7 linked regions of the Homo sapiens genome follow. The protein of the gene in region 5 interacts with the protein of the main gene of each other region in a biochemical or structural test. Each region holds a gene or a part of one and is shown on either strand. Other genes may lie near its edges.

Region 1 (4,121 bases), on a different chromosome or scaffold from region 5:
GGGGAAGGGACAATGGGCCATTATGCACAGGAGATAAGAAGGGATGACCTTTGACAATTTTTTTGTTTGTTTGTTTGTTTGTTTTGAGATGGAGTCTCACTCTGTCTCCTGGGCTGGAGTGCAGCAGTGGCACTCTGCCTCCCGGGTTCAAGCGATTCTCCTCTGTCAGCCTCTAGAGTTGTCTGGAGTTGTCAGCTCTTCCCCTTGCGTTTCAGATCCTCTGGACCATGAGCCTGCCGTGTCTCCATTGCTCCCTCGAAAAGAGCGAGGTCCCCCGGAGGGCGGCCTGAATGAAGATGAGCGCCTTCTCCCCAAAGACAAAAAGACCAACTTGTTCAGCGCCTTGATCAAGAAGAAGAAGAAGACAGCCCCAACCCCTCCCAAACGCAGCAGCTCCTTCCGGGAGATGGACGGCCAGCCGGAGCGCAGAGGGGCCGGCGAGGAAGAGGGCCGAGACATCAGCAACGGGGCACTGGCTTTCACCCCCTTGGACACAGCTGACCCAGCCAAGTCCCCAAAGCCCAGCAATGGGGCTGGGGTCCCCAATGGAGCCCTCCGGGAGTCCGGGGGCTCAGGCTTCCGGTCTCCCCACCTGTGGAAGAAGTCCAGCACGCTGACCAGCAGCCGCCTAGCCACCGGCGAGGAGGAGGGCGGTGGCAGCTCCAGCAAGCGCTTCCTGCGCTCTTGCTCCGCCTCCTGCGTTCCCCATGGGGCCAAGGACACGGAGTGGAGGTCAGTCACGCTGCCTCGGGACTTGCAGTCCACGGGAAGACAGTTTGACTCGTCCACATTTGGAGGGCACAAAAGTGAGAAGCCGGCTCTGCCTCGGAAGAGGGCAGGGGAGAACAGGTCTGACCAGGTGACCCGAGGCACAGTAACGCCTCCCCCCAGGCTGGTGAAAAAGAATGAGGAAGCTGCTGATGAGGTCTTCAAAGACATCATGGAGTCCAGCCCGGGCTCCAGCCCGCCCAACCTGACTCCAAAACCCCTCCGGCGGCAGGTCACCGTGGCCCCTGCCTCGGGCCTCCCCCACAAGGAAGAAGCTGGAAAGGGCAGTGCCTTAGGGACCCCTGCTGCAGCTGAGCCAGTGACCCCCACCAGCAAAGCAGGCTCAGGTGCACCAGGGGGCACCAGCAAGGGCCCCGCCGAGGAGTCCAGAGTGAGGAGGCACAAGCACTCCTCTGAGTCGCCAGGGAGGGACAAGGGGAAATTGTCCAGGCTCAAACCTGCCCCGCCGCCCCCACCAGCAGCCTCTGCAGGGAAGGCTGGAGGAAAGCCCTCGCAGAGCCCGAGCCAGGAGGCGGCCGGGGAGGCAGTCCTGGGCGCAAAGACAAAAGCCACGAGTCTGGTTGATGCTGTGAACAGTGACGCTGCCAAGCCCAGCCAGCCGGGAGAGGGCCTCAAAAAGCCCGTGCTCCCGGCCACTCCAAAGCCACAGTCCGCCAAGCCGTCGGGGACCCCCATCAGCCCAGCCCCCGTTCCCTCCACGTTGCCATCAGCATCCTCGGCCCTGGCAGGGGACCAGCCGTCTTCCACCGCCTTCATCCCTCTCATATCAACCCGAGTGTCTCTTCGGAAAACCCGCCAGCCTCCAGAGCGGATCGCCAGCGGCGCCATCACCAAGGGCGTGGTCCTGGACAGCACCGAGGCGCTGTGCCTCGCCATCTCTAGGAACTCCGAGCAGATGGCCAGCCACAGCGCAGTGCTGGAGGCCGGCAAAAACCTCTACACGTTCTGCGTGAGCTATGTGGATTCCATCCAGCAAATGAGGAACAAGTTTGCCTTCCGAGAGGCCATCAACAAACTGGAGAATAATCTCCGGGAGCTTCAGATCTGCCCGGCGACAGCAGGCAGTGGTCCAGCGGCCACTCAGGACTTCAGCAAGCTCCTCAGTTCGGTGAAGGAAATCAGTGACATAGTGCAGAGGTAGCAGCAGTCAGGGGTCAGGTGTCAGGCCCGTCGGAGCTGCCTGCAGCACATGCGGGCTCGCCCATACCCGTGACAGTGGCTGACAAGGGACTAGTGAGTCAGCACCTTGGCCCAGGAGCTCTGCGCCAGGCAGAGCTGAGGGCCCTGTGGAGTCCAGCTCTACTACCTACGTTTGCACCGCCTGCCCTCCCGCACCTTCCTCCTCCCCGCTCCGTCTCTGTCCTCGAATTTTATCTGTGGAGTTCCTGCTCCGTGGACTGCAGTCGGCATGCCAGGACCCGCCAGCCCCGCTCCCACCTAGTGCCCCAGACTGAGCTCTCCAGGCCAGGTGGGAACGGCTGATGTGGACTGTCTTTTTCATTTTTTTCTCTCTGGAGCCCCTCCTCCCCCGGCTGGGCCTCCTTCTTCCACTTCTCCAAGAATGGAAGCCTGAACTGAGGCCTTGTGTGTCAGGCCCTCTGCCTGCACTCCCTGGCCTTGCCCGTCGTGTGCTGAAGACATGTTTCAAGAACCGCATTTCGGGAAGGGCATGCACGGGCATGCACACGGCTGGTCACTCTGCCCTCTGCTGCTGCCCGGGGTGGGGTGCACTCGCCATTTCCTCACGTGCAGGACAGCTCTTGATTTGGGTGGAAAACAGGGTGCTAAAGCCAACCAGCCTTTGGGTCCTGGGCAGGTGGGAGCTGAAAAGGATCGAGGCATGGGGCATGTCCTTTCCATCTGTCCACATCCCCAGAGCCCAGCTCTTGCTCTCTTGTGACGTGCACTGTGAATCCTGGCAAGAAAGCTTGAGTCTCAAGGGTGGCAGGTCACTGTCACTGCCGACATCCCTCCCCCAGCAGAATGGAGGCAGGGGACAAGGGAGGCAGTGGCTAGTGGGGTGAACAGCTGGTGCCAAATAGCCCCAGACTGGGCCCAGGCAGGTCTGCAAGGGCCCAGAGTGAACCGTCCTTTCACACATCTGGGTGCCCTGAAAGGGCCCTTCCCCTCCCCCACTCCTCTAAGACAAAGTAGATTCTTACAAGGCCCTTTCCTTTGGAACAAGACAGCCTTCACTTTTCTGAGTTCTTGAAGCATTTCAAAGCCCTGCCTCTGTGTAGCCGCCCTGAGAGAGAATAGAGCTGCCACTGGGCACCTGCGCACAGGTGGGAGGAAAGGGCCTGGCCAGTCCTGGTCCTGGCTGCACTCTTGAACTGGGCGAATGTCTTATTTAATTACCGTGAGTGACATAGCCTCATGTTCTGTGGGGGTCATCAGGGAGGGTTAGGAAAACCACAAACGGAGCCCCTGAAAGCCTCACGTATTTCACAGAGCACGCCTGCCATCTTCTCCCCGAGGCTGCCCCAGGCCGGAGCCCAGATACGGGGGCTGTGACTCTGGGCAGGGACCCGGGGTCTCCTGGACCTTGACAGAGCAGCTAACTCCGAGAGCAGTGGGCAGGTGGCCGCCCCTGAGGCTTCACGCCGGGAGAAGCCACCTTCCCACCCCTTCATACCGCCTCGTGCCAGCAGCCTCGCACAGGCCCTAGCTTTACGCTCATCACCTAAACTTGTACTTTATTTTTCTGATAGAAATGGTTTCCTCTGGATCGTTTTATGCGGTTCTTACAGCACATCACCTCTTTGCCCCCGACGGCTGTGACGCAGCCGGAGGGAGGCACTAGTCACCGACAGCGGCCTTGAAGACAGAGCAAAGCGCCCACCCAGGTCCCCCGACTGCCTGTCTCCATGAGGTACTGGTCCCTTCCTTTTGTTAACGTGATGTGCCACTATATTTTACACGTATCTCTTGGTATGCATCTTTTATAGACGCTCTTTTCTAAGTGGCGTGTGCATAGCGTCCTGCCCTGCCCCCTCGGGGGCCTGTGGTGGCTCCCCCTCTGCTTCTCGGGGTCCAGTGCATTTTGTTTCTGTATATGATTCTCTGTGGTTTTTTTTGAATCCAAATCTGTCCTCTGTAGTATTTTTTAAATAAATCAGTGTTTACATTAGAATTCTTGGCAGATTGCTTCGGCCTGTGATCCTGCCCTGTTGTTCTGAGCCTGTGCGGTGGCGGGGCCGGGATGTAGTGGGTTCTGGTTTCCCGACGGGGCTGGGGCCCGGCATCAGGTCTTACAGAGCAGAACGGTGGCAGGTTGCCCCCAGCTGCCCAGGGCCTCTGCGGCCTGGGTGCCCACAGCCATCTTTCAGGCA
Region 2 (4,121 bases), on a different chromosome or scaffold from region 5:
ACCAACCAACCAACAAACATAAAAAAACACTGTCTCAAATTGGTAATCTTCATTCTTGTCTAAACATTATATGTGCATGTGTGTATGTGTATGTATTTTTTCCACATGGTTAGCCCAAGACTCTAGATAATTTCAGTTATTAAATAAAAAATACTACTTGGCTACACTGCAAGGAAATTAACTAGCAAACCTTAAAGGCGAAACTGAGATGTCTCAGGTACCATGAAAGCCACATGGTTAGAGGCAAAGATGCAGAGCTCTGAGTAGAACCATTGCTCAAAGGACTTACCACTGTAAAGTTCCTTCCTGCTTCATGCACATTTATGACCATTCTCGGGACACTAACTGAATTCAGGTTTTTCCCAACACCTGTTATTGTGCTCCCACCACTGGCAAAGCAAAATAGAAAACTGACAATGTTGAGAGGTTCTTTCCACCAAGTACTGTAAGAGAGGGATTCAATTTAATCACCTGCACTGATTACAGGTCAGAGGCACAGTCAACATCAAATGGAAGTTCATGGGTAACTGTTCTTTGGAAACAACTTATTTAACTTGAAAATATTTTTAAAATGCATATTTCATAAGCTTAAGAAATGCATTTGTATTTTATTCACCGAATTACACAAAATAAATATTTCACCTCTGAAAAAAATACAAAGAAAACCGAACTTAACTATTGTTGCTAGACTGATAGAATTAACGGAAACAAGGCAGATTGAACTGGGTCCAATGAGATATCAATTCAAAGAGAGTCTGGCATAAAGAAAAGCTGTGTGTAAAGCAGGCAGGACAAAAACATATCTAGAGAATGGAAGAAAAAAGGTAATTCCACTTCTGGGCACTAAGGTTAGTATAGAATTGATATGTACATAATGTAAGTGCATGTATACTACAATGCCACATTAAACTATTTTGCTATACTCTGTTTAAATGTAATAGAACAGGATAAGATACTTCTTGGAATGAACTAGCATTGATAAGTCAAACTACACTCAGAACCTGAATATAGTTTTCTCTCCTGAATTGGAAAGAAGCCTTCAAAAGCAACATAACAGCATCAAAGCCAGAGATAAAACTGCAATTCCTCTTGACTATTCTACAGCAAAATCATCCTTGTATTCATTGTTTTCTTATACCCATCAGAAGCTTCTACTTACCTAATAAAAGATTTGGTTGGATGAATTTCATAGACAATGGGATCTTCACGGTAACTGAAGATGCTTGTCTCTCGGTTGGCTAAGTCAATTTTCAATTTAACAGCAAACTCAGTTGAAATGGTTTGGGCTGGGGTATAACATTCAAGAATACTGTTTGACACACTGAACAAAAAAAATTAAGGAAGTGAATTTTAGCTATTAGAGATACACATATTTTAGAATTATATCCACAAATCAAAAGGATATAACTCAATGGTTCCTAAGTGGGAATTTCCTGAGTGGAAGCCTTTTCTAGTGTAGGCTGTTTAATCTGACTGGATCTCAAACTTACCTTTGTTGTGGACAAGCTATCCTTGACTGGAAAACATTTGAGATTTGAAAAAAAAACCTTTAAAGTACTTTTGGTACTTGATTAAACTGAGCTCTTCCAACTCTAAGAAGCAGAAACATAACTGTCTTCCAGACCCAATTTTCCCCATTTCTTCCTTCCCCAGAGTGACTTAGTCTAATTACAAATCTTGATGAAAATGTTTATTTTAAATTATTATCAATGACCAGACTCTCACAGCTCATAGTATAGCTAAGATCCTAAGCTATAACAATAAAGAGGGTGGATGGGAAGACAAAACTGAAAAGTAGGATTGCTAAAAAACAAGAGAAAGGAAGAAAAATCAGCAAAAGGAGTAGATGAATTTTGGAAGGAGGAAGTTTTGTCAGTAGGAGAGTAAACAAATAAACATCTTGATTTTTCTTCTCCACACACACACACAAAACAATCTGCTTAATTTTTAAGGTACAGATATTAATTCAAATTGACAGATGCAACAAAAAATAAATTTACAACACCTTTTTAAAGTACATGTTTTTCCACCAATTGAAATGTGTCTAGAATTCCCACTGTTTAGGTAATTTCCAGTTAAAGTAAGTAAAGTGCCACCAGCCATAGGACCGTATTTCGGCGAAATACTTGTTATTACAGGATCCTGGAGGGGAGATAAAAACAAAACAAAGTAACTTGTTCATCTTATAATTTAAATAGATTAAGTAAAAATCAAACATGATAGGATAGAATCTTCCTTACCACATAGGAGAATGTACTGTATTGTGTTGTCCCGTGGCCATTTGAAATAATTATGGACATATTGAAATGCTTATTCATGGCAGGACCAACTGTGCATTTCAATCTGGAAAAAAAACCCAAAGTTTAATACATGACAAATCCAAGGAATTTTCTGGTTAGGTTGTTTTATAGGAAGTGACATTAACTCTAAATGGTGAGCTGACTGCTTTGAATAGCAAGCAGAGTTTCAAGATAAGCATTAAGGCCAAAAATTATATAATCCTATTTCTATACTATGATAAACTTAACTTTTATTTTTATGTAAAAAGAGACAGGATCTTGCTCTGTCACCCAGGCTGGAGGGCAGTGGCATAGTCATAGCTCACTGCAGCCTTGAACTCCTGGGCTCAAGGGATCCTCTGGACTCAGGAGTTGGAACTAGAGGTGCATGCCACGGCATCTGGTTAATTAAAAAAAAATTTTTTTTTTTTTTTGGTAGAGATGGAGTCTCACTACGTTGCCCAGGCTGGTCTTGAATTCCTGGGCTCAGGTGATCCTCCTGCCTTGGTCTGCCAAAGTGCTGGGATCACAGGCGTAAGCCACTGCACCCTGCTTATACTAAACTTTACATTAATGGTACTATAGCACTTATACAGACAAACAGGAAATATCAGACCTTATCCATAAAGACCTCACCAGTTGAATAGTGCATAATAATCTAAGTTTGGATAATATTAATATTTGGGGATAATCTTTGGTCCACTTCAGATGCATATGAAACAATGGGCTAACTACAAATAGGCCAATCTCTTCATTAAAGTATGTCAACAGGTACATTTCTGTGGTTATACTTGTACATGCTTATTTAAATTACTTAAATGATAATGAAATTGTGATGGCTTTCCATAGAATTATTTCTGAATGAATAATCATATAGTTCTGAGAAAATTTAAATACAATTTGATTTATTAAATAACTTTTTAAAGGAGAGAATGAATTATGCTTTACTTTTACAGGTCCTGATTTATATGCAATGATTAAGAGTTTTGGAGATTTTACAAGGGAGATTTCTAGAAAAAATTTGTTTTGCCATTCAGCTAACAAATATTACCTTCATTAGTGTTTTGGTCTCAGTAAAATGGATAGATTCGGACCTTTGTGTAACCCTGAAATGAATTCTATTAGATATAAAATAACCACCTGATAGAATGGGTTCAATCATAAAGATTCAACCATAAAACTTTAAATATTTGAGTGTTGTTATTATGTGATAATGAATAATTTCTGGATTCTCTGATGATTATGGAATTCAAAGCTTGTAGAAGGGTACATGTAGAATACAGTAGAACTAGCACGGGTCTTGGATCAGAAGATGATCAGAGCTGAGCTGAAGGCTTGTTCAGCTCTTACTCTCTGGATTACCTCTGTGAAGCCACACTTCATCTCTCTGAACTTCAGGTACCTCTTTTATATTATAGGAATGATACTGCTCCCTCCCAGGACCGTGGGGATGGTTCAGTGAGATACAGCCCATATATTGCAGTGCCAGTAAATATAAGCTGAATATAAATTTTAACTCATCTAAAAAAGTCTCAAACACGTGATTCAGCTGCCTCACTACATTTCTGAGGTTTAGAAAGTGAATTTAAAAGAGAGGATCCATGCTGAGCTGTTTACTGATTTCTGTAGAAAAAGCCTTTGGAGACTCTACATTTGAAGACTCCAAGGATGAAGTGATCCCAACTAGTGCTACTCTTGCAAATCTACTCAGACAACACCTGAAGACTTGTCGCATAAATGGTTGAGAAACTCCCATTTCTGGCCTCTTCTCTTCACCTAGGCCATGTCACCTTTCTCTCTCTTCAAATCCAATGAGTAAATGGGATTACAAGAACAAAACAG
Region 3 (4,121 bases), on a different chromosome or scaffold from region 5:
GATCACTTGACCTCTCCGAGCTTCAGTTTCCTCACCTGTAAAAGGGAGCTCATCACAGTTCCCACTGCTGGATTACTTGTCATTGTGGGTATCAGAGTCTCACAAAGTGGCCTCAAAGCACTGCGTGTGGAATGATGTCACTCGGACAAAAGCTCTAGGGCGGAGGGACTCCCTTCTGGTAACTGCTGAGGCCCAGATGCCTGGAACAGGTCCTGGCACATAGCAGCTGCTCAAGATGTATTTGCTGGATGAATGAATGAATGAATGAATGAACAGAGGAAAGGAGTGAAAGACGGGCTTAGTCATTCTCTCCAGGGCAGACAGGTCTCCAAAGCGAACCTCTGCCCAGCTAACTAATTAGCTTCCTCCCATCCATTTTTTAACAGACAGCTTACGGAGCACCTGCTATGTGTGGGGTTTTCTGGCCTATAAGACCAACACCTCTCATGAGGACAACTATCGTGAGCCCATTTTATAGATGAAGAAATTGAGGCTCAACAAGACCAGGACACTCACTCAAGCACACTTGGTCTCAGAGCCAGAGCCTGTATCTGAGCAGGTGCTTCCTTCTGATGCCCTGCCTGGCTGGCTTGTCCAGTCACTCATTCCTTCCTTCATTCATCCCTTCACTCTATCTACAGGTATTCCTGAGCCCCTCCTGTGTGCCAAGCAGGGACAGGAGTGAGCCAGACCCATGGGTCAGTCAACCCCATGCCCCCTGTCCCACCCTCACCTGCTGGGGTCTCAGCCCAAAGCCCATGGAACCCACCCTCCATAAACACACACACACACACACACTACACACAAATACATATACACATTACACACATATACACATACATACACACAATATACACACATACATACATATACACGCAAACATACACACACATACACACATGCACACATAGACATTCACATACACACATACACATGTATATACATACACATATGCACACACATACACACAGACATACATATACACACATACACACATATATACACAAACATACACATAAACATATAGTCATACATATACACACATACACATATATACACATATACACATACACATATAGACATACATATACACACATACACATACACACACAGACACACATACGCACATACACACGCACATCAATATACACACACATACACACGTACACAAACACACACACAGGGAATGGTCCCAGAAGGTGGCCAGCCCACTCGGTCAACCGGGTGGAACCCAGGCCACTCCACCCTCAGGGGAAAACGGGCGCCTGGTGAGACTGAGGAGCTCTTTGTGCAAGGGGCAGGGTGGGTGGACAAGAGGGGCTGCTGTTACTCACTAACCAAAGAAATAGAAGGATATTCCCGTTTGGTCAATGGCCCGCCTGTCTGTCCCCTGAGCCCCCGCCTCCTTCTGTGGCCTTTCCAATGCCCTGACCTCATCTGGAGACCGGCAAGGGCTTCCTGTGCGCCTGGTGTGGTCTCGTGTGATCCTCCCTCACCGATGAGGAAACATGCTCAGAGAAGTGATGTAACCTCCTTGGGGTCACACAGCCGGCAGTGGCCAGGGCTCGGGGCAGAAAGGGGAAACCAATGCTCAGGAAGGGGCTAGGGGTGGGAAGGAAGTCAGAGTCACATTGAAAGTGAGGCCCTGTCCCTTCCTCATTCCTGTCCGGCCACTGGGGTGCCAGCTCATGGGCTGCAAGGGCACCCGAGGTTGAAGGAGCCCAGGCCAGAACAAGAGCAGCAGCCAGAATAACCCAAATCCCTCCTCAAGTTGGCAGAGCTCTGACCTCAGCAAAGCCCAGGAACAGAGAGCTTAAGCCACTTTCTGAGGTCACAGAGCAGCAACTGGCGGAGCTGGGAGGTAAGCTAAGGTGGCTCAGACGCCAAGGTGGGTGAGCCTAGCGTAGCTTTCCACGCAAGAAGCTAAGCTGGCCACTGGGCTTTTCGTGGACCCAAGGACACCAGTGTCACTCAGATCTGGCTTCCAGCTCCAGCTCTGCCATGAGCCAGCTGGGCATCCCTGGGTAAATTGCTTCCTCTCTGAGTCTCGATTTCCTCAGCTGTAAAATGGGGCTCAGCATTCCTGCCCCTGCCCACCCCCGGCAGTGGGGAAGCTGTGACACCATCAAAATGAACATCAGCCCTCACACCTGTAATCTGAGCACTTTGGGAGGCCAAGGCAGGAGGGTTACTTGAGCTCTGGAATTCCAGACCAACCTGGGCAACATAGTGAGACCCCTGTCTGAAAAAAACCTTTTTTTTTAATAAGCTGGGTGTGTCCCAACTACTTGGGAGGCTGAAGTAGGAGGATCTCTTGAGCCCAGGAGTTCGAGGCTGCTGTGAGCTATGATCACACCACTGCATTCCAGCCTGAGCAACAGACTGAGACCCTGTCTCTAAAAATAATAAATAAAAAAAAAAGTGAACAACAGGCAATAGATGCTGGTTTTAAACTAAACACTCAAGGTTGTGCTGAAGACTGTCCACAACCTCCCAGCAAGGCAGGCATTACCTTATCCCCATTGTCCAGATGAGGAAACTGAGGCCAAAGGAATAATGGAACTTATTGGAAGCTGGGATTTGAACCTGGGCAGCTGGGCTCCAGCCCTAGTTTTTAAGCATTAAATCAGGAAAGTAAAAAAAGTTGACAGCTCCTGGCACTCAGTCAATGCTCATAAATATTTCATTGCTGAAAACATATCATTATTTGCCCAAATGCAAGTCTAGCTTTGCCCCCAATACCTTCCACCCACCCACCTGGCATGGAGGGGCTCTCTGAGGATGTCTGGGGGATAAGCTGGAAGAAAACATGCCCTGGAATGGGCCTGGGGACAAGGGGAGCTGACACGGGCTGAGGCAGAAGAGCTGTGCTTCAGAGCCCCATCCACGTGCCTTGGGTCATCCCTGCAAAGTGGGATGAGAGTCCCTTTGACACAGGAGGAAATGGAAGCCCAGAGAGGCCAGGTGGCTTCCCTGAGCTCCTCCAGCGGGGAATAGCAGGCCTGTCTTAAACATGCGGATGCAGTTTAAGCCCAGGCCTGTCTGCAGTTCAGGCTCTTTGTTTGTTTTGAGACAGGATCTCTTGCTCTGGACTGCAGTGGCACAATCGCAGTTCACTGCAACCTCTCACTCCTGGGCTTAAGCGATCCTCCCACCTCAGCCTCTCAAGTAGCTGGCACTACAGGTGCGTGCTACCACGTTCGGCTAATTTTTGTATTTTTTCTAGAGACAGAGTTTCACCATGTTGCCCAGGCTGGTCTCAAACTCACGGGCTCGACCGATCCACCTGCCTTGGCCTCCCAGAGTGTTGGGATTACAGGTGTGGGCCACTGCACCCGGCCAACTCAGGTTCCTATCTCTGGACTGCAGAGTAGCTCCCCCATGACCCCAGGCACCCCAATGAGGGTCCAGACAAATGGGGACGGGCCACCTTACAGGTGAAGGGATGGATTTGCAATCACACAAATGGGATTCAGGTCCCAGCTCTGCCCCTTCTCAGCTGAGAGAACCCAGGCAAGAGATTTCACCCTCTAGACCTCATTCTGCCCTCTGAAAAATAGAGACAAAAATAGTTTTGTATCCAAATGTGCTGAGGGTGCTTGACTCAGTGCTTGGCACACAGTAAGTGCTCAATAAAGGCTTGCCACCATCATAATAGTTGTTAATGCAACCCAGGGTTGGCTAAAGCCAGACAGAACCTTGTACCCAGAGTTCATAACAGCAGCCACTTATCTCAAGAGATCGGAATTAATCTTTAACAGGTGAATTCTGCTCCAAATGGGCGATGTGGAGCATTCCAGAGGGCCCACTGGCATGAAATAAATGTTATCTTGGCTCCCCAGACCCTATCTGTGACAACAAGAGGAGCTGTTACCTGGGTCCCTATAATTTGGAGAACGGACTGGAGTGTCTTTCCCAAAGTCAAATGGGGGAAACTGAGGCAGACAGCAGGGTCAAGGGCCTGCATGGAGTAGAGACACCCACTTCATGTAGACCCCATCCCCCTAGGAACAGAGGAAGGAACTCAAAGGACTTTGACCATCTCAAAAGTATTTGTTCAGACAACCATGCCATAGATACTGACTGAGCACCTACTATGTGCCAGGCACATGAGGCTCAGT
Region 4 (4,121 bases), on a different chromosome or scaffold from region 5:
GAGATGCATTTTATAAGAAAACCACCTGGGAAATTTCCCAAACAAGACAAGTCCCAGACTCTAATCACATCATGGAAATAACATGCTTCAGTAACTTTGAAGCAAACCTACAGTGTAGTAGGCAGATATCTAGATTACATTATTCCTCTCTTCCACTGACTAGCTGTGTGACACCAGTCATATCACCTGACTTCTCTGTGGCAAGTTTCTTCCTTTGAAAGAAGGGGATGATAATAATAGAACCTCATGAAGTTTGTTTAAGGATTAAGGAGGTTAACATATATGTGTTGAATAGTAAACACCAGGGGAATATTACTTATTACAATCAATATGAAATAAAGAAAATTATGTTTGTTAGATAATGAGCAGCAAGTTGAAAATATTCTTATGGCTATGGTCAAGAGAAATCGGATGCTGTCGGTTCTACTAGCTATGATAATGTTCTTAGATTAAGAGAAAAGAATTATCTTCTAGAAAAAATTAAGCATCATGTTTATATCTTATCAATGGAAGAAACTGATTACAGACACAAATTTACTACTTCTTCATGCTCCGTACTGGTCAGTGAATACTGGATTACAGCACTTACTATGCAGTCCCTCTATCTGTATGATTCTTTGATTAAGGTTTTCACTTCTTGAAAGCAGAAGTTGTATCAAAATTCTTTGAGTCTTAAATGTATACTAATGCTTCACATACAGTGGTACTCAATATATGTTGAATGTATGAGGAATGAATTTATAAAAATAAATGCATGGATTTGACAGCTTTCAAAGAAAGAATGGAATTCATATAGAGTAGGTTTAACATTTAAAATGTAAAGTGTTTTCAGAAACTTCCTTCAAAACTTAAATCTACTTCTTAAAAACAAAAATCTACTTCTCAGCAGCCTTTTCGATGTGATTAGGTTCAAAGGACTGCACGGTTTTCTGTGTTTCTACTTCAACTTGACAGAAAATATTTAATTTTTCTTAAATAAGTGAAAGAGATTTATACTTGTATTACTTCTTGACTAATATATCATAATATCTTTTTAAGAAAGAAAAGTAGAAAGCCTACTTGGTAGGAATTTTCATTTATTTATATACACATAATGGTTTTATTAGTTGGAATTGTTTTTTAAAGTTAAGATTTGTTTTAAATAAATTAAGATGAGGAAAATGTTTTGCTTCTGAAATCTTGAAGGTATTTCAGAGTACATGTTGTATTGTCCATGCTTGTCTTCCAAAATTAACTACATATAGCAAGATTGGCACATCTTTTGTGGGTATGGTATATTTTTAATCTAGGCATCACATTGATTTGAGCTATATAATTATTTTGAAATGTTAGTGCTTATGAACTATTACATGATTTTATATCTCAGAAAGAATATGATATGTGTATATAATTATTTCTTACCCTATTCGAGTCAATTCTTGCTCTGGAAGTATAGATGGGAGGTGGGATGTTGAAAGCCTGAGGGACCAAGTACTCCTCAGCATCCATCATATCTTCCAAATCCTCTTCATCCAAGAGATTCTGAAAGAACTTGCTGTCATTTGGACTGGGAAGCTTCATACGATCATCACCCTAAAAGAAAGATTGCCCATCAGACACAAATATGATTCTTTCTTATCTTAAATATGTGGTCTCTGCAATAAATTTATGTAATATCATAACAAATGGTTGAAAAATTCATACACACATTTTAAAAAAACAAGTCTTTAGCACAACCACCGGCCATTAAGAAACCTATAACATGCTTAGAAATGATAGGGCCAGGTAAACAAACTTTATACAAGGAGAATATGATAAATGCCATTAGAGAATAATAAAGCAAAATCAAAAGATGTTTTTAGGGAGGTAAAATCAATTTCAGGTCTGAAAATAATTGTTCATTGCCCAGATAGTGTATGGGTTGCAACTTTAAGAATAAACAATAAAAGGTGATCAATTTATCAACGTTTATTTGGTTGGTTTGATGCTGTAGGATTATCAGGACCATAGGGTCTATACTTTATTCTATAGCATACTGACTGCATTATCAAAGTAGGGGCATTCAAAACTCACAGTGCAAGTGGCAAATAGAGTAAAGGAGTATGAGAAAGACACCAAAACCTTTGTTATGCTCTTCCTCACCTCGTCTATTTCTTAAGTATTTTTCCTATATTTTTAAAGTTACATAATTTTTGGAAACAATTTCAGTTCATGAAAACTAATTTTGGGGAAAAAATAAATGGAAATAAGTATCTTCTAAAACCTAGCTTTTATCTTTATGTCAGACTGTCGATATGAAAATAAAGGCTACCTTGCTTTACTGAGGAAACATAATACACTCTAGTCCAAGGCCCATTTGTTTAGAGTTTAGGTGAAATTAATCCTAGAGAAATATATTATTATTTTTTAATTATCCAAGTCTATCTATTTTTCTAGTGTTAAATATAAAATATTTCTTTGGTTGGTTGATTAAAATGTGCATCAATTCATTTGAATTGAGTTATTGCTTAGATACTGCATATCTCTCCAAATAAAACAAAACATATTTTAAAATATTTTTGGGGAAATTAAATAATATACTGAAACTTTTGATTCACTGTCTTCAAGCATGGGCAAGATTAAAACAAAAATCTGTCTTCCTTTTGTTCCGAAAAAAGAAAATTATACTAATGAACATGACTTACACATAATGTTAATAAAATCAAGGTGCTAAAATAAGTGTCTGAGGATTAAGACCTCTTTATGTATATGTATAATCATAATTATCTGTTCAGTAGCAGAGCCACTTGAATACTAAGGGAAGGTGCTAAAAGGTGGATCTGACGTGAAATAAAAAGCTCTTTTCCATAAGTCATGTCACATGATAATTCTGCTTAATTAATCAACATGTTTGTGGTCCTTTCCACAGTTCCAAAGTCCTGATACTACTCATTTTGCAGTGAGTTTGCCATTGGCCTAGTCTTAAAGGCATAAGTCAAATGTACTCACCTGAATAACTAGGTATCTTTGAGGGTCTCGAGCCATCCTTGAAAACTCAGCAGCCAGTTCCTTAAATTTAGGTCTACTGTCAGCATCAATCATCCAACCTGGAAATTTACACAGTGAAAATGTCACTATATTCGTAACTAGAAAGGAGTTGAAATTTAAATTTTGTGAAAATATGAGCAAAAGTTTGAAAAATGTTGTTTTAATCGTAATGATCTGAGAAAGAAAGCAAGCTAGTGAAAGAAACGACTCAATTGGTAAGGCTTTATCGGTCTCTTTGTTGATATTCATAACTAAATGTAATGTACTGTAAAACAAAAGATAAATTTTTTCTCTGATGTGTATAGACGTGACTGCAATATAAGTTATTATTTTGTATTAGGAGTGACATAGGAGAGAAGATTTGGTTACAATGCTTACACTGGCACAAACGGGAAAAGAGGAATTAAAAGCAACTTTCTTGTGCTACATTTGTCCTGGTGGACAAAAAAAAAAAAAAAAAAACTAATGCAAAGTGATTGGTAATGCCTGTTCAGCAATAGACATTAGCTTATCTTAGTACTAGCTTGTCTAGTATAAAAATACTATCAGCAATTTTCAAGGTATGTATTCTTATTTAGCTGGGAGTCTAGATAAAGCAGACCTTATCTCTACAGGCTCTGTTTAGCTAATGAGATGACAAGAATAAAAGTATCAAGCTTTCCTTGATTTTCTTGCCAAATTATCCTCTTCTTAGGTATTAAAACCCCGAAAGAAAGGTAAAATTCTCCATTAGGGAAAGTGTTTTCTTGGTTTTACATAATTAATTTCATCAGAGCTAAATTCTGATGAGTTTAAATCATTTCCTATGCTAGTTACAGGATTAAATTATATAAGACATGCATGTTTTTAAACTTTCTTCCATAGATGTCTACCAAACAATATTTAATAGAATAAGGCTGTAAAGCTTGTTCCTTCCTTTTCCGGGAGTTCAGTTTTTATTCCTATTCTGGGAATTTTTTGGGTGTCATTTTATGTATCATTAATGTCATCTGCTTTTTTTCTCCCCAAACAAAGCTCAAATGCTCTGTATTCTATATGCATTCATTTGAAAAAATGCTTGCTAATGCCAAGATGCTAATGAGAAAACAGGTGTTTCTGAAACTATTGAAGCCAAA
Region 5 (4,121 bases):
TCACTCCCTGAGCCTTGCTCCGTCCTCCCCCTCCACGCTTATTAGCAACAGGACTCTGAGGACCAAACCAGACAGCTCCCAAGCACTCTGCCATAGGCACTTGGCCCAGCACTGGGTCCCTAGGCCCTGGAAGTGGACAGCACCCTGCTTATCCCGGATCCCAGCACCAGGGCGAGATAACAAGGGAACAGAGTGGAGATGCCGAGGCCCTGGGGCTCCTGCTGGGGTGGCATGCAGTAGGGGCGCCAGTCAGAGAAACCCAGCCCCACTGCTCCCACCCAGAGCCAACGGCAGAGGTCAGGAGCCACCACGATGGGCACCCTGTGTAGGCAGCTGTGTAAGCCCTACAGGGTGGGCCTTGGGACCGTATAGCAGTAAGTGGCCTGAGAGCCCTGCGCCGCCTGTCCCTTTCACTCATCACCGTGGTACTTTTCGTACCGTGGCGGTCTTGGCGGCCTCCCTTGGACCGCACAAAACCATGCAGCTCCTGCACACACCTCGGGCTCAGCCCAGGCACTTTACGGCGTTTTATCTGGACAAGCTCCTGGGTCAGGGCAAAGGACGCTGGGGCCCAGGCGTGGCCCCCATCATGGCTCCTCTGTGCACCACTGAGGGTCCTTGGGCCCCTCGCTTACCCAGGAACCCTGTCACCATCTGTCAGCGGGTGCCACAGGCTGGGACCCACCAAGGCTGAGTCAGCACAACAGGGTCCCTTCCCTCTGTCCACTCATTTCAGCACTTGAGGGTTAGGTCTTTCTGCTGCCTTAATGCATTCGCTGTGATCCTTTTTCCCTAACGTTACGTGTGTGTGTGTATATAGATATACATACATACATATATACATATATATATACACACACACACACACATATACATATATATATACACACACCACATACATACACATATATACACATATATACACATATATACAAACATATATATACATATACACATATATACATATATACACATATATATACACACACACACATACATATATATATACACATATATACAAACATATATATACATATACACATATATATACACATACACATATATACACACACATATATACATACACACACACACACACACACACACACACACACACACACATATATTTTTTTGAGACAGAGTCTCACTTTGGTGCCCAGGCTAGAATGCAGTGGCACGATCTTGGCTCATTGCAACCTCTGTCTCCTTGGTTCAAGCACTTCTCCTGCCTCAGCCTCCTATAGCTGGGATTACAGGTCATACCACCACACCCAGCTAATTTGTATTTTTAGTAGAGACAGGGTTTCACTATGTTGGCCAGGCTGGTCTTGAACTCCTGACCTCAGGTGATCTGCCGGCCTCGGCCTCCCAAAGTGCTGGGATTACAAGTGTGAGCCACTGCGCCCGGCCCCTTTTTTTTTGAGATCAGGTCTCTCTGTCACCCAGGCTGGAGTGCAGTGGCACAATCTTTGCTCACTCCAACCTCTGCCTCCCAGTTTCAAGCAATTCTCACGTCTCAGCCTCCCGAGTAGCTGGGATTACAAGCATGCGCCAACATGCCTGGCTTATTTTTGTATTTTTAGTAGAGCCGGGGTTTCACCACGGTGGTCAGGCTGGTCTTGAACTCCTGACCTCAACTAATCCACCCGCCTTGGCCTCCCAAAGTGCTGGGATTACAGGCATGAGCCACCACGCCTGGCTAATATTTTTAAACTGTTTTCTAACATGGGTTTTTTTCCCGGATGTTGTTCGTTTTTACTCTCTGGGTTTATTATTCTATTCCCTTGCCTTCTGCTTCTTGTCATTTTTTATTCCTTAGTAAATTTTAGGTTGGCCTCAGGAGGTTTCCTGTCTAGGCTGGGTCTTGTCCTTGCGCTGGCTTCCTCCTGGGGCCACTCACAGGCCAGCACAGGTGGGCTCAAGGCGACAGGCCAGCCCCTCTGCTGGGGCTGCAGCAGGCATCGGGGTGGGAGAGCAGGCCACAGCCACTCCCAGGCCGGGGTCTCTGGCCGGACAGGGGAAGGGAGATGCAGGCAGGCCCAGGAGCAAGAGGGAGGCAACAGGAAGAGGTGCTGACAGAGAGGCAAAAAGAAGGAAGAAGGAGTGGGCCAGACCCCGGGTTGGGGAACCGAGAGCTGTGTGTTCCTCCTCAGCCTGGGAACCCCAGAGCCTCGGGGCCCGGGCAGGGGACAGGATGACTCATGCCCGCTGGCTCCTGTCCTCACCCTCAGCGTGGCCCAGAGGGGGCCTGGGTGACCTGAACGTTCCCAGGCCCCTCACAACGCTCCACTGTTCAGAGAGGCCCAGTGAGGACAAGGGTCTGGCGGTGGGCCCGGCCTGCCGGGAAAGGAGCCCAGCCCCCAGCCTCTGCCGCAGCCTCTCTGCACCCCTGCAGTCTGGGCCCCGGTCCTCCGCGGTCAAGACAGGCAGGGGTGGAGTCTGGATCAGGGTCTCCTCCTCTCCGCCCCCAACCATGCAACTGTCCAGCCCCCTTCCCAAGGCCAGGCCGCCCACAGCCCAGCTCCTTCCTCCCTCGGAGCCAGCCTGTCACAGCCTTTCTGCTGCAGCCTCAGCAGAGGTGGCTCTCAAAGACAGCTCCGCTCAGCCTCAGGGCTCAAGGCCACCCATGCCCTACCTCGCCGGACACCTCTCAGGCTGTTCCACGAGTTCCTCCAGCCGTTCCCCACCTGCAAACTCCCGCCTGGCCTTCTGCCCCCGGCCAGGTCACCCCAAGACACCCCCAATGCCCTTACTGCTCCCTGGGGATGGCGCTCCAGGCCAGGTCCTTCCTCAGAGGGGTGAATGGCTCTAGTTAGGGTCCCCAACCACCACAGCCCCAGACCCGTGGGAGCCGAGGCCTGAGCTCTCCTGCCTGCCCAGCCTCCCTGCACCCACCCCTGGCACGGGAGCCCGAGACAGCCTCCCCAGAGCCCCCAGGTGAAGTGCCACCTGGCCCGTCATCAGCCCGGGGGGGGGGCGGTCACAGGACAAGCACCTCCACGTACTGCTCGGGTGGCAGTAAGACTCTGGAGTCAGCAGGGCCTGTAAGCAAGCCCGCCGGTGTCTGCCCCTAGGGCCTCCTCCTGGCTGGGAAGCAGCCACGGGGCAGGCTCGGGCAGCTCAGGCAGGGGCAGGCTGCATCAGACAGGGAGGTGGCACAGCCCGGTGGACACTCTGGGGACACAGCCTCAGGAGTGACTTGGGGATGCCCTTTCCCTCCCCAGGGAGGCAGCTCTGGACCATGCCACTGTCTGCCAGAAAAGCCAGCCAAGGAGGAGGGAGACTGAGCCGGGGACAGTCAGTCCCACCAGGGCCAATGCCACCCCAATCTCAGCAGTCTGCTGCTCCCTCCCCTTTCATCCCCTGTAGCCCCTGTGCAGGGGTCACCGACCCCATCCTGGTCACGTCACCTCCTCCACTCCCACCCAGCCTTCTGCAGCCTCGACGAACCCACTTCTGTCTGTGGCAGCCCCCACCCTTTCCCCAGACCCCGCCCGAGCTCCTCATGGTCTTCTTGTGGCCACTGCTTGGAGGGCGTATGTTCGGCAGTGGTCTCCAGACCCCAGAGTAAGCTTGAAAACATAAGCCAGCCCCTGCTGGAAGCCCCACCAGGCCCTCGGGCCCCACCTCTCTAGCCCCTCTCCCTTTTCAAAACCAGGGTGTCTTTCACACAGCCTGAGCCCTCAGCCTGGCCCCTCCTCCTGCTCCCCCTCAAGGAGGCCCCCCCGGGGGGATCCGTGAGGCGCCCCTGGCATCTTTGGTGCTGCCTTTTCCCAGCTTCGTACTGGAAGGGCCAGGACCCTGCCTGCCGCAAGGGTGGCTCTGGGTAGGTCTTCGAGGGGGCCTGGGTCCCAAGTGGGTCCCCCCTGCTTCTCAGGACACCAGCCCTGGAATAGCTGTCCCCTTGATGCCAGCCGGCAGGAACCCTGGCATGGGGCAAGGCCCGCTAGATCCTCTGCAGAGGTGGGGGTTGGGGGTCCTTTCTCAATCTTCTTCCTTCCCCAGCAACTTCCTGCCCCAGAGGCAGGCACAGCCACCCCGACCACAAAACATCACCCTCCTGGTCACATCCTCAAGAAAATGGGAAGGTTGATCTCAGAGAGCCCCTGCCCCAAGTAGCA
Region 6 (4,121 bases), on a different chromosome or scaffold from region 5:
ACTGACAATCAAAGGTTGGTATGAAGACAAGTTTCACTGATAAATACTTTGACCAATGCTGGTTAACAGCTAACCTGACTTACTGCCTCCAAAAGCTGTGTATTTTTAAAACTTAAATGCAACCAGCTCTGAAAGACCATTATCCATATTTTTCATGGATGTCAACTCTGCTTTTTGGTCAGGTATTGGGAGGGGCAAGTTAAGAGATTATTAACTTCATATTATCCTTCTCAACACAAGAAAGCAGAAAGACATTCCAACATACCAGATCTTTAGCTGGTTTCCAGGAATTAACAGGGACTTTTATTACCCAATGTCTAATATCAACTATTCTCCTTTCTTCATTATCACATCTGTGATTTTCCTGGTCTTCAAACCTATATTCCTAGGGATAAGATGGGGTGCAGGGGCAGAGAAATGGGAAGGGTGGGGAAGGTTTTACAAATTCCATTATCACCACATATGATGACTACTCAGAAAATAAACTGCTCAATCACCCAAACACAGTAATAAAATTCTCGTAGAACAGCAGTTCTACTATTAACTTCAGTAATTAAATTCTCATAGGGCAAAGTATAGTCTGGGAACCCCTAGAGGTCTCCCCTATATCCTTTGTGGGGTGGAGAGGAGACAAAGTAAAACCACTTTCATAAGTCTAAGATATTTGCTTTTTTTCCACTGTCATTTTCTCACAAGTGGAGTTTTCCAGAAGCTACAGGAGGTGGAATACTACAATAGGTTGAATGAAATGCAATGCCGCTATTCTCATTCAATTTTTTGTTAAAGTTATTTTATTTTCTAAAAAGGGGTCCTGAGATCAAATTTGTGAACCACTGTCCCAGAGTATGGCCAATTAAGACGTCTTACACAGCATCTGGTAACTCCATCAATCTACTTAGCACTCATCACCCAAACAAAAAAGTGATGGTGCCAGTGATGTCTCCTAAGTGGGGATCAATACCGTTCTATACATTCTCGTATCTTGAGGATAACAAGACACAGGCTACACACTATCTTCTTGCTATATGTATTAAAGACACTCAACCAGTGATGTGAAATATCATAACCCCCAATACATGGCAACCAACAATTACAGTGAACACCCCCACATATCCACCACCTGGATCTTACCATTAACCTTTTGCCATACTTGCTTTTTCAGATACCCATACATTTCTAGCAGTTACAAGCTGAAGACATAAGTACAGGCATATCACTAGTTTTTTTTCAAAGCAAAATTTACATACAAAATGCACAAATCTTGGGTGTACATTTGCTGAGTTTTGACAAATGTATAAAACCCAAACCCATATCAACTAAAGAATACAATTATCCATTCTACTATAAAGACACATGCACACATACGTTTATTGCAGCACTATTCACAATAGCAAAGACTTGGAACCAACCCAAATGCCCATCAACGATAAACTGGATCAAGAAAATGTGGCATATATACACCATGGAATACTATGCAACCATAAAAAGGATGAGTTCATGTCCTTTGCAAGGACATAGATGAAGCTGGAAACCATCATTCTCAGCAAACTAACACAGGAACAGAAAACCAAGCACCGCATGTTTTCACTTACAAGTGGGAGTTGAACAATGAGAACACATGGACACAAGGAGGGGAACATCACACAGCGGGGACTGTCAGGGCGTCGGGGGCTAGGGGAGGAATAGCATTGGAGAAATACCTAATGTAGATGACGGGCTGATGGGTGCAGCAAACCACCATGGCACATGTATACCTATGAAAGAAACCTGCACGTCCTGCACTTGTATCCCAGAACTTAAAGTATTAAAAAAAAAAAAAAATACAATTATCCCAGAAGCCTGCCCCTTCCCAATCTCTGCCTATTCTCCCACAGAGGCCATTATTCCTGATTTTTTTTCCTACCATAAACAGGTTGTGTTTGTTCTAAAATTTCATATAAATGGAATCACATACACTATGTACTTTTTCATGCAAAGTTTCTTTCACCTAGCATGTTTTTGAAATTCAATCATATTGTAGTATCAGTGGTCCATTCATTTTAATGCTGAATAGTATTCCATTTATGAATACATCAGTGTTTATCAATTTTCCTACTAGTGGATTATTTCTAGTTTTCTGCTCTTAGAATAAAGCTGTTATTAACATTTTTGTACCTATGCGCCTTGGCCCCATGCATCATTCCCTCTTGCGTAAACACCTAAGAGTGGAATTTCTAGGGGAGGAAAAACTTATAATAGGGAATTTTAAAGGTACACAGGAGAACAAAGAATAGTACAATGAATTCCAATTAAAGCCAGCTGCAACTATATTAATTCATAGACACTCCTGTTTCATCTGTATTCCCCCAATTACTCTGAAGTCCTAGGTATTATCATCATTTTGTCTTTAAATACTCAATATGCAAACAATAGTTTCAAATCTAGTAATTTATCATATTTATCACTGACTTATCTATGGATTAAGAGTTTAATTAAAGTAGCAATGGATAAACTTTGCTTCTCTTCACATCTTTTAAATGATGTCTCTCTACCACCTCCCTGATATCCAGAAAGTCAGTGGTATGAATTCAGATACGTTTTCTGTTGCCATTTGGAAAGGATTAGTGTTAAATACAAAAACTGGTCTTAATGATAAAAATAGAGAACATTACCATAGCCAACCAGATTTCCCAACTGCCAAAGCAACACCTTGACTGAACTAATCCCATGCTATGGTATCATGTTCTAAATGAAACTACATGAGACTTAAAAATACTAGTTTTCTTAAGCAGTCCTTTGTGAGAAGGGAGGTGGTCCTCATACATCCAATACTGAACAAGGAGATAAGACGTTAAACCTTCTGGTCACCAGATTTTTGTTAGCCTTAAAAACTTGCTTGTGCTGGAAAGGGTTAGGGGAAATGAATGACCTTCTCAACCACTGCTGATGACAGTGTATACACATACCTTTTCAGAAGGCTATCTGGAAAAAACCGCACATCTTTTGATTTGGAAATTCCACTTCGAGAACTTAAGTAAATCCTAGCATAAAGCATGCAACAACGATCTTCTTCCCAGGGGTTGTTTGGAGAAAAATTGTTGACAGTGTTCACCACTGCATTAAAAGTCTGAACCACGGCCGGGTGCAGTGGCTCACGCCTATAATCCCAGCACTTTGGGAAGCCGAGGCGGGAGGATCACCTGAGGTCGGGAGTTTGAGACCAACCTGACCAACACGGAGAAACCTCGTCTCTACTAAAAATACAAAATTAGCCGGGTGTGGTGGTGCATGCCTGTAATCCCAACTACTTGTGAGGCTGACACAGGAGAATTGCTTGAACCCGGAGGCAGAGGTTGAGGTGAACCAAGATTGCGCCACTGCACTCTAGCCTGGGCAACAAGAGCAAAACTCTGTCTCAACAAAATAAATAAATAAATAAATAAAATTAAATTTAAAAAGTCTGAACCACATATGCCAAGCTACTATGAAGGAGGGGAGGAGATTTGCCGTTCATCAATTTTCACTGCATCTAATAGATTTCAATATAATTGCAGTCTGTGCGAAGTCTTTAAAAGAGCTCAGGGCTTTGGAGACAACTATGAAGAAGTGGCACTTTGAAAATATAGGACCCGGCCAGACACAGTGGTTCACGCCTGTAATCTCAGCACTCTGGGTGGATTGCTTGAGCTCAGGAGTTCAAGACCAGCCTGGGCAACATGGCAAAACTTCATCTCTACAAAAAATACAAAAATTAGCCAGGCATAGTGGCAAGTGCCTGTAGTCCCAGCTACTCCGGATGCTGAGGTGGGAGGATGGCTCGAGCCCGGGAGGTGGAGGTTGCAGTGAGCCCAGATGGCGCAACTGCACTCCAGCCTAGGCCACAGAGCCAGACTCTGTCTCAAAAATAAAAACAAATCAAATCAAACCAAACAAAAAATAGGACCCACTGAATAAGTTTCAGTAAGGTGAACTGTAGAGTTTGAACAGCATACACACAATAATGACAAGGGGAAAAATGACAAGTCTAGCTAGACAAGAGGTTCAGGTAAGATATCAACACGTTAGGAAGAAGCCAAAGGACAGCATGACACAATCCAATACAACTTAATACAGCTCATTTTATTTATGGACTAATCCAAGGC
Region 7 (4,121 bases), on a different chromosome or scaffold from region 5:
TCACAGGGTCCTCCAGGTAGAGGATGCCATTCTTGATAGAGTTGCTGATGTCGTTCTCAGAGTACATCATGGATGTAGGCACCTCCTCGTAGGCACTGCCCTCAGCCAGCTTCTTGTGCTGTAGGGGCAACCAGAACAGGGCAATGCAGACCCCAGTCCTCACCCCACCTCCTCACCCAGGTTTAGGCCCAACAGCTGAAGCCATGGCCTGGGCAAGGCACTGAGAAGTGTGGGGCTTCCGCAATAAGCCCGCCACCCCACCTTGATGAGGATCTTCCTCTTAAGCTGGTTGGGTGAGGGGAGCCCGTCGGCAGAGATCTCCACGGGCTTGGTGAGGAGTGTGTCCCCCAGCACCTTCTTGAAGTATTGGGCCATGTTTCTCTGCTGGGCAATGCTGCAGTGGTCCTCAATGGACAGGATGACTGGGTACCTGCGGGATGGGGGACAAGCACAGTGAAACAGATTCTGCAATTCTCTGGGTCTAAGTAGCCCCTCACAGTGAGCTGTTGGAAGCCAAGGGCCTGGGGGCTTCTTGTCTGTAAAAACTATCCCAGAAAAGAGGCAGGCCATAGCCACTGGTGGGGCAGAGAGGGGTTCTACAGCTGTGGCAGCAGTGGAAACCAAAGGGTGGCAACTGATGCAGTCCCGAGCTGGCCCAATTATGGAGGCTGCTCAGCAGTGCAAGAAAAATGTTTCACACCAAAGAGGCCAGGAGAGAGGAGAAGCCTCCAAAGTTAGCTGTTAGAGCCCTGGTGAGCTAAGGGAGACCAGTGACCACAGTTTAAGCAGTAAACAGAATTGAAGGAATGGGACACAGGGAACAGAGACAATCTTCTGGGCTGTGAGGGCAAAGGAGTTGGCAGGACACTGGCCTAAAGAAACCAGGGCATGTTTTCTGAAGATGAGAAGAGCATGTGTTCTACAGTCTAAAGGACCCATGAAGAAGAGAGTGGGCCCAACACGTAGGAAACAGAAAGTGTAACTTGGGAAGCAACAGCTCAAGCAGGGAGCAGGTGACGAGGAGAGGCCAAGAGGAAGGACAAAGATGAAAGGCTGAGGGAGAGGGGACAGGGCATTTGAGGAGTCTTTCTGCCCTCTGTCCCTCTAGAACGAGAGACCTGGAGCCAAGTTAACCCCTGGGTCATCCAGCCTCCGACTCACTCTGAGGCCACAAAGGCATGCTCCTTGATGGTGTGCAGGACATCTGAGAACTTGATCTTGGTGGTAAGGGTGTGCCCATGGTAAATAACTGGCATCCCATCCGGGCCGTCCCAGCAGTCCACTGGGGAGCAACATCACCATGGTCAAGCGGGCAGGCCTCCCATCTTCCCTCCCCCAGCCCTGGACCCCACGCACACTCAATGCAGCGACAGCCCATCCGCAGGCAGCGAGCATAGGCTTCCAAGGAGGACTCACTGGAGAACTGGTCCCCGGTCAGGTACCTGGATAGGCAAGGAGAGGCAGGTAGGTATGGTCAGATGGGCCCTCCTGGGGAAGAAGCTGGGTGGGCCTGAAGGAGCCACACTCACGTGTTGTGCGAGGAGGAGATCCAGTAGTGGGAAAGAGGGTTGTTCATGGTGTCCGGGCATACTGCATCCAGCTGCGAGTTCCACACACTGTTCTCTTTGGAGAACAGGAAGGTGACAAACTGTCCAGAAACATGTGGAAGGGAAGAGACAGTGAGTCCCTGCCCTGTCCAACCCAAGATGGTAGGTTGGGGGTAGGAGAGAGAGTGCTCTGTCCCAACTGGGGGTGGGCAAGGTGCACAGTAGGTAGAAACAAGGTGGCATCCCTAAGGAGCGTCTAGCTCCTGGAGCCCGGGTGGGGTCCTGGTCACCCCTACTCATTCTCTTGACAAAAAATGGGTGAAACATCGGGCTCACCTCATCCAGGAAGAAGTATGGCTCCTCGATCTCTCGTAAGGGGTCTCGGAGGAAGCTGAGCATGAACTCCTGCACCTGGAGGCGATCAACAGCCCACAGCTCCTGATGGGGTAGGGAGGGCAGGGGATGAGAGAAGCCTCCAGTCAGGGATGAGCCCAGCCCCCCACAACCTACCAGCCTGGGCCAATGTCAGCCCAGCCATACCCCCTGGTAGTCAAGAAGGAACTGCTGGAACTCAGGAAGGGACACTCGGCAAAGCTCCGGCCGCTCCCCAGCCCTGCAGGGAGAGAAGGTAAGCTAGCTAGTATGGTCAACAGACAACAAGGTGCCCCACGGAAGGCAGAACCCAACTCCCAGCCAGCACAGCTTCCCAGAATGGTCCAGCATGGTTCCCTACTCCCACTGCCTCCCACCTGGATCAAGAATCGCCCAGTGGAGAGATGAAGGGGGCCCAGGGAAAACCCCACCTCCCCACTCCAAACCAAACCTCAGAGTACTGGCTTCCAAGAAGGGGAGGTCCATCTGCAGGAAACAGAACCTGGTCAGGGCAAGACCCCTGGGAGGCCATGTGGGAAATGGGCTAGTAAGAAGGCAGGCTAGAGCAGCAGATGGGGGCAGGCCTCAAGAGGAGAAGAACTGGAGAAATGGCACCCAAAAGCCCCTAAGCAGGGCAGCAGGGCTGAGGCAGGCAGAGCTGGGGTGTGGGGTGGAAGAGCAGGGGCAGGGGTTGAGGGAGGGCAGGTGGCTCATGCACCGTCTTCTGGGCGCTGTACATGAGGCTGCGGTACAGCTGAGCAAACTGCCCGTAGGTGATGTCCCCGCTGCGCTGCTCCAGGTCCTGCATGGTATAGAGCAGGAGTGCCAGTCAGGCAGTCAGGCCCCCAGCTGAAGGGCTCTTGGCTTCCCCTGCCCCCATCTACAGACAGCCCTGGGTGGCACTTACCGTCAGCCGCTCTCGGAGGAAGCGCATGTTGGGGACCCGGTAGTTGACCTGGGACAGCATGTTCTTCAGGTCCTTGGCTGATATACTGAGAAAACAGGGACATCCCCAGTGGTCTCATCCAGCTTCTCATGACCTCTGACCTGTGGGTCGAGCCCACCTGGGGCTGGACAGGTAAACAACACTATTCTGGGAACCTGGAGGCCTGAGGGCAAGACTGGATCAGAACCCATGGGGTGAGGTTAGTCCCTTCCTTTCTTTGGACCTCAGTTCCTCATCTGAGCAAAAAAAAAAAAAAAAAAAACAAAAACAAAACAAACAAAAAAAACCTGTAATTCTGGCAAGGAAGATGTGAACAGATTCAGTAAAGTGGGTCAGGCATGGGAGGAAGAAAAACCACACTCCAGGCCTCCCCTCCTACCGGCACTGCTGAGGCCTGTGCCAAGGTGGCAGTCAGCCTATCCAAGACAGAAGGCAGGGCTCACTCACAACTTCCCTGTTGGGGGCAGCATGGCAGCAGGTCCCTACCTGCTGCCCACTGGGATGCTGGGAGTTTGGTCCTCAGAACCCACTAACCCATGAGAGGGAGGAAGGAGGAGGTGCATGCTCCACCAAATACAATGACTGGCAACTGGGCACCTCCTGGGGCTAGACAGGGCCTGGCTCCAGGAAAGAAACTGAGAGAACAAGCGCCCCTGCTCTCCAGGGGTGTCCTGCCCAGGATGTGAGGCTGGGGACACTGCTGGACCTGGCAACAGGATGGACAAGAAGGGGGAAGGGGGGGGCTTTCTCTCCTGGAAGGTGGTGTCAAGGAGGGGAGGGGAGGGTGGGACCACCTCCTCTGGGCCCCAAGAGCCTGGGAGGAGGCACCAAAATTCCCCGAGGGGGCTGAGCGCCACACTGAGTGGATCAAGCACTGCGGAGGGAGGGCTGGCTCTATATAGGCGCCCCCTCCTCTGATCCTCAGTCACCCAGGAGGTAGGTGCTATCAGGGTCCTTGTTTTCCAGTGAGGAAACAGAGGCCTTCTGGTTGCAACTGCCTGCATCACCGATCTTGCCCTCTGTGGTCTCTTTCCCATCAGCATACGAACAGCTTGTTACTTCTTCCACCAAAAACACCTGTCTTGCCCCTGCTTAGCTCTCCAGCTACTGCCCTCTTCTTTGCTCCCCTCCATAGCAAAACTCCTTGCAAGAGTCATCTTGCTCCCTCTCATTCCCTTGAGCCCCTCACCGCTAGGGTGACACCGCTCTTCTCACCATGTTAAATCCAAGGGTCAACGGTCAGATTTCACCACTGT

Evidence for each region.
Region 1: the proteins of SH3BP2 (region 5) and ABL1 interact in a biophysical measurement, tested with the Homo sapiens proteins (one large-scale study listed by IntAct).
Region 2: the proteins of SH3BP2 (region 5) and MET form a complex in vitro, tested with the Homo sapiens proteins (one large-scale study listed by BioGRID and IntAct).
Region 3: the proteins of SH3BP2 (region 5) and TRPV4 interact in a test that uses a peptide from one of them, tested with the Homo sapiens proteins (one large-scale study listed by BioGRID).
Region 4: the proteins of SH3BP2 (region 5) and ERBB4 form a complex in vitro, tested with the Homo sapiens proteins (one large-scale study listed by BioGRID).
Region 6: the proteins of SH3BP2 (region 5) and YWHAQ form a complex in vitro, tested with the Homo sapiens proteins (one study listed by IntAct).
Region 7: the proteins of SH3BP2 (region 5) and PLCG1 form a complex in vitro, tested with the Homo sapiens proteins (2 studies listed by BioGRID, with this or other methods).

The regions. Positions count from the first base shown.
Region 1 is NC_000009.12:130,883,754-130,887,874, forward strand, and holds the end of ABL1 (tyrosine-protein kinase ABL1), read left to right. Parts: intron 1-215; coding exon 216-1,930; 3' UTR 1,931-3,922; downstream 3,923-4,121. UniProt on the Homo sapiens protein: Non-receptor tyrosine-protein kinase that plays a role in many key processes linked to cell growth and survival such as cytoskeleton remodeling in response to extracellular stimuli, cell motility and adhesion, receptor endocytosis, autophagy, DNA damage response and apoptosis.
Region 2 is NC_000007.14:116,755,659-116,759,779, reverse strand, and holds part of MET (hepatocyte growth factor receptor isoform b preproprotein), read right to left. Parts: intron 2,344-4,121; coding exon 2,241-2,343; intron 2,143-2,240; coding exon 2,006-2,142; intron 1,322-2,005; coding exon 1,160-1,321; intron 444-1,159; coding exon of another isoform or gene 390-443; coding exon 290-389; intron 1-289. UniProt on the Homo sapiens protein: Receptor tyrosine kinase that transduces signals from the extracellular matrix into the cytoplasm by binding to hepatocyte growth factor/HGF ligand. Regulates many physiological processes including proliferation, scattering, morphogenesis and survival.
Region 3 is NC_000012.12:109,826,775-109,830,895, forward strand, and holds part of TRPV4 (transient receptor potential cation channel subfamily V member 4), read right to left. Parts: intron 829-4,121; exon of another isoform or gene 36-828; intron 1-35. UniProt on the Homo sapiens protein: Non-selective calcium permeant cation channel involved in osmotic sensitivity and mechanosensitivity. Activation by exposure to hypotonicity within the physiological range exhibits an outward rectification.
Region 4 is NC_000002.12:211,419,040-211,423,160, forward strand, and holds part of ERBB4 (receptor tyrosine-protein kinase erbB-4 isoform JM-a/CYT-1 precursor), read right to left. Parts: intron 3,066-4,121; coding exon 2,968-3,065; intron 1,573-2,967; coding exon 1,402-1,572; intron 1-1,401. UniProt on the Homo sapiens protein: Tyrosine-protein kinase that plays an essential role as cell surface receptor for neuregulins and EGF family members and regulates development of the heart, the central nervous system and the mammary gland, gene transcription, cell proliferation, differentiation, migration and apoptosis.
Region 5 is NC_000004.12:2,799,406-2,803,526, reverse strand, and holds part of SH3BP2 (SH3 domain-binding protein 2), read right to left. Parts: intron 1-4,121. UniProt on the Homo sapiens protein: Binds differentially to the SH3 domains of certain proteins of signal transduction pathways. Binds to phosphatidylinositols; linking the hemopoietic tyrosine kinase fes to the cytoplasmic membrane in a phosphorylation dependent mechanism.
Region 6 is NC_000002.12:9,620,377-9,624,497, forward strand, and holds part of YWHAQ (14-3-3 protein theta), read right to left. Parts: intron 1-4,121. UniProt on the Homo sapiens protein: Adapter protein implicated in the regulation of a large spectrum of both general and specialized signaling pathways. Binds to a large number of partners, usually by recognition of a phosphoserine or phosphothreonine motif.
Region 7 is NC_000020.11:41,161,242-41,165,362, reverse strand, and holds part of PLCG1 (1-phosphatidylinositol 4,5-bisphosphate phosphodiesterase gamma-1), read right to left. Parts: intron 2,912-4,121; coding exon 2,827-2,911; intron 2,722-2,826; coding exon 2,638-2,721; intron 2,406-2,637; coding exon 2,371-2,405; intron 2,161-2,370; coding exon 2,088-2,160; intron 1,986-2,087; coding exon 1,884-1,985; intron 1,649-1,883; coding exon 1,530-1,648; intron 1,443-1,529; coding exon 1,357-1,442; intron 1,283-1,356; coding exon 1,162-1,282; intron 431-1,161; coding exon 262-430; intron 119-261; coding exon 1-118. UniProt on the Homo sapiens protein: Mediates the production of the second messenger molecules diacylglycerol (DAG) and inositol 1,4,5-trisphosphate (IP3). Plays an important role in the regulation of intracellular signaling cascades.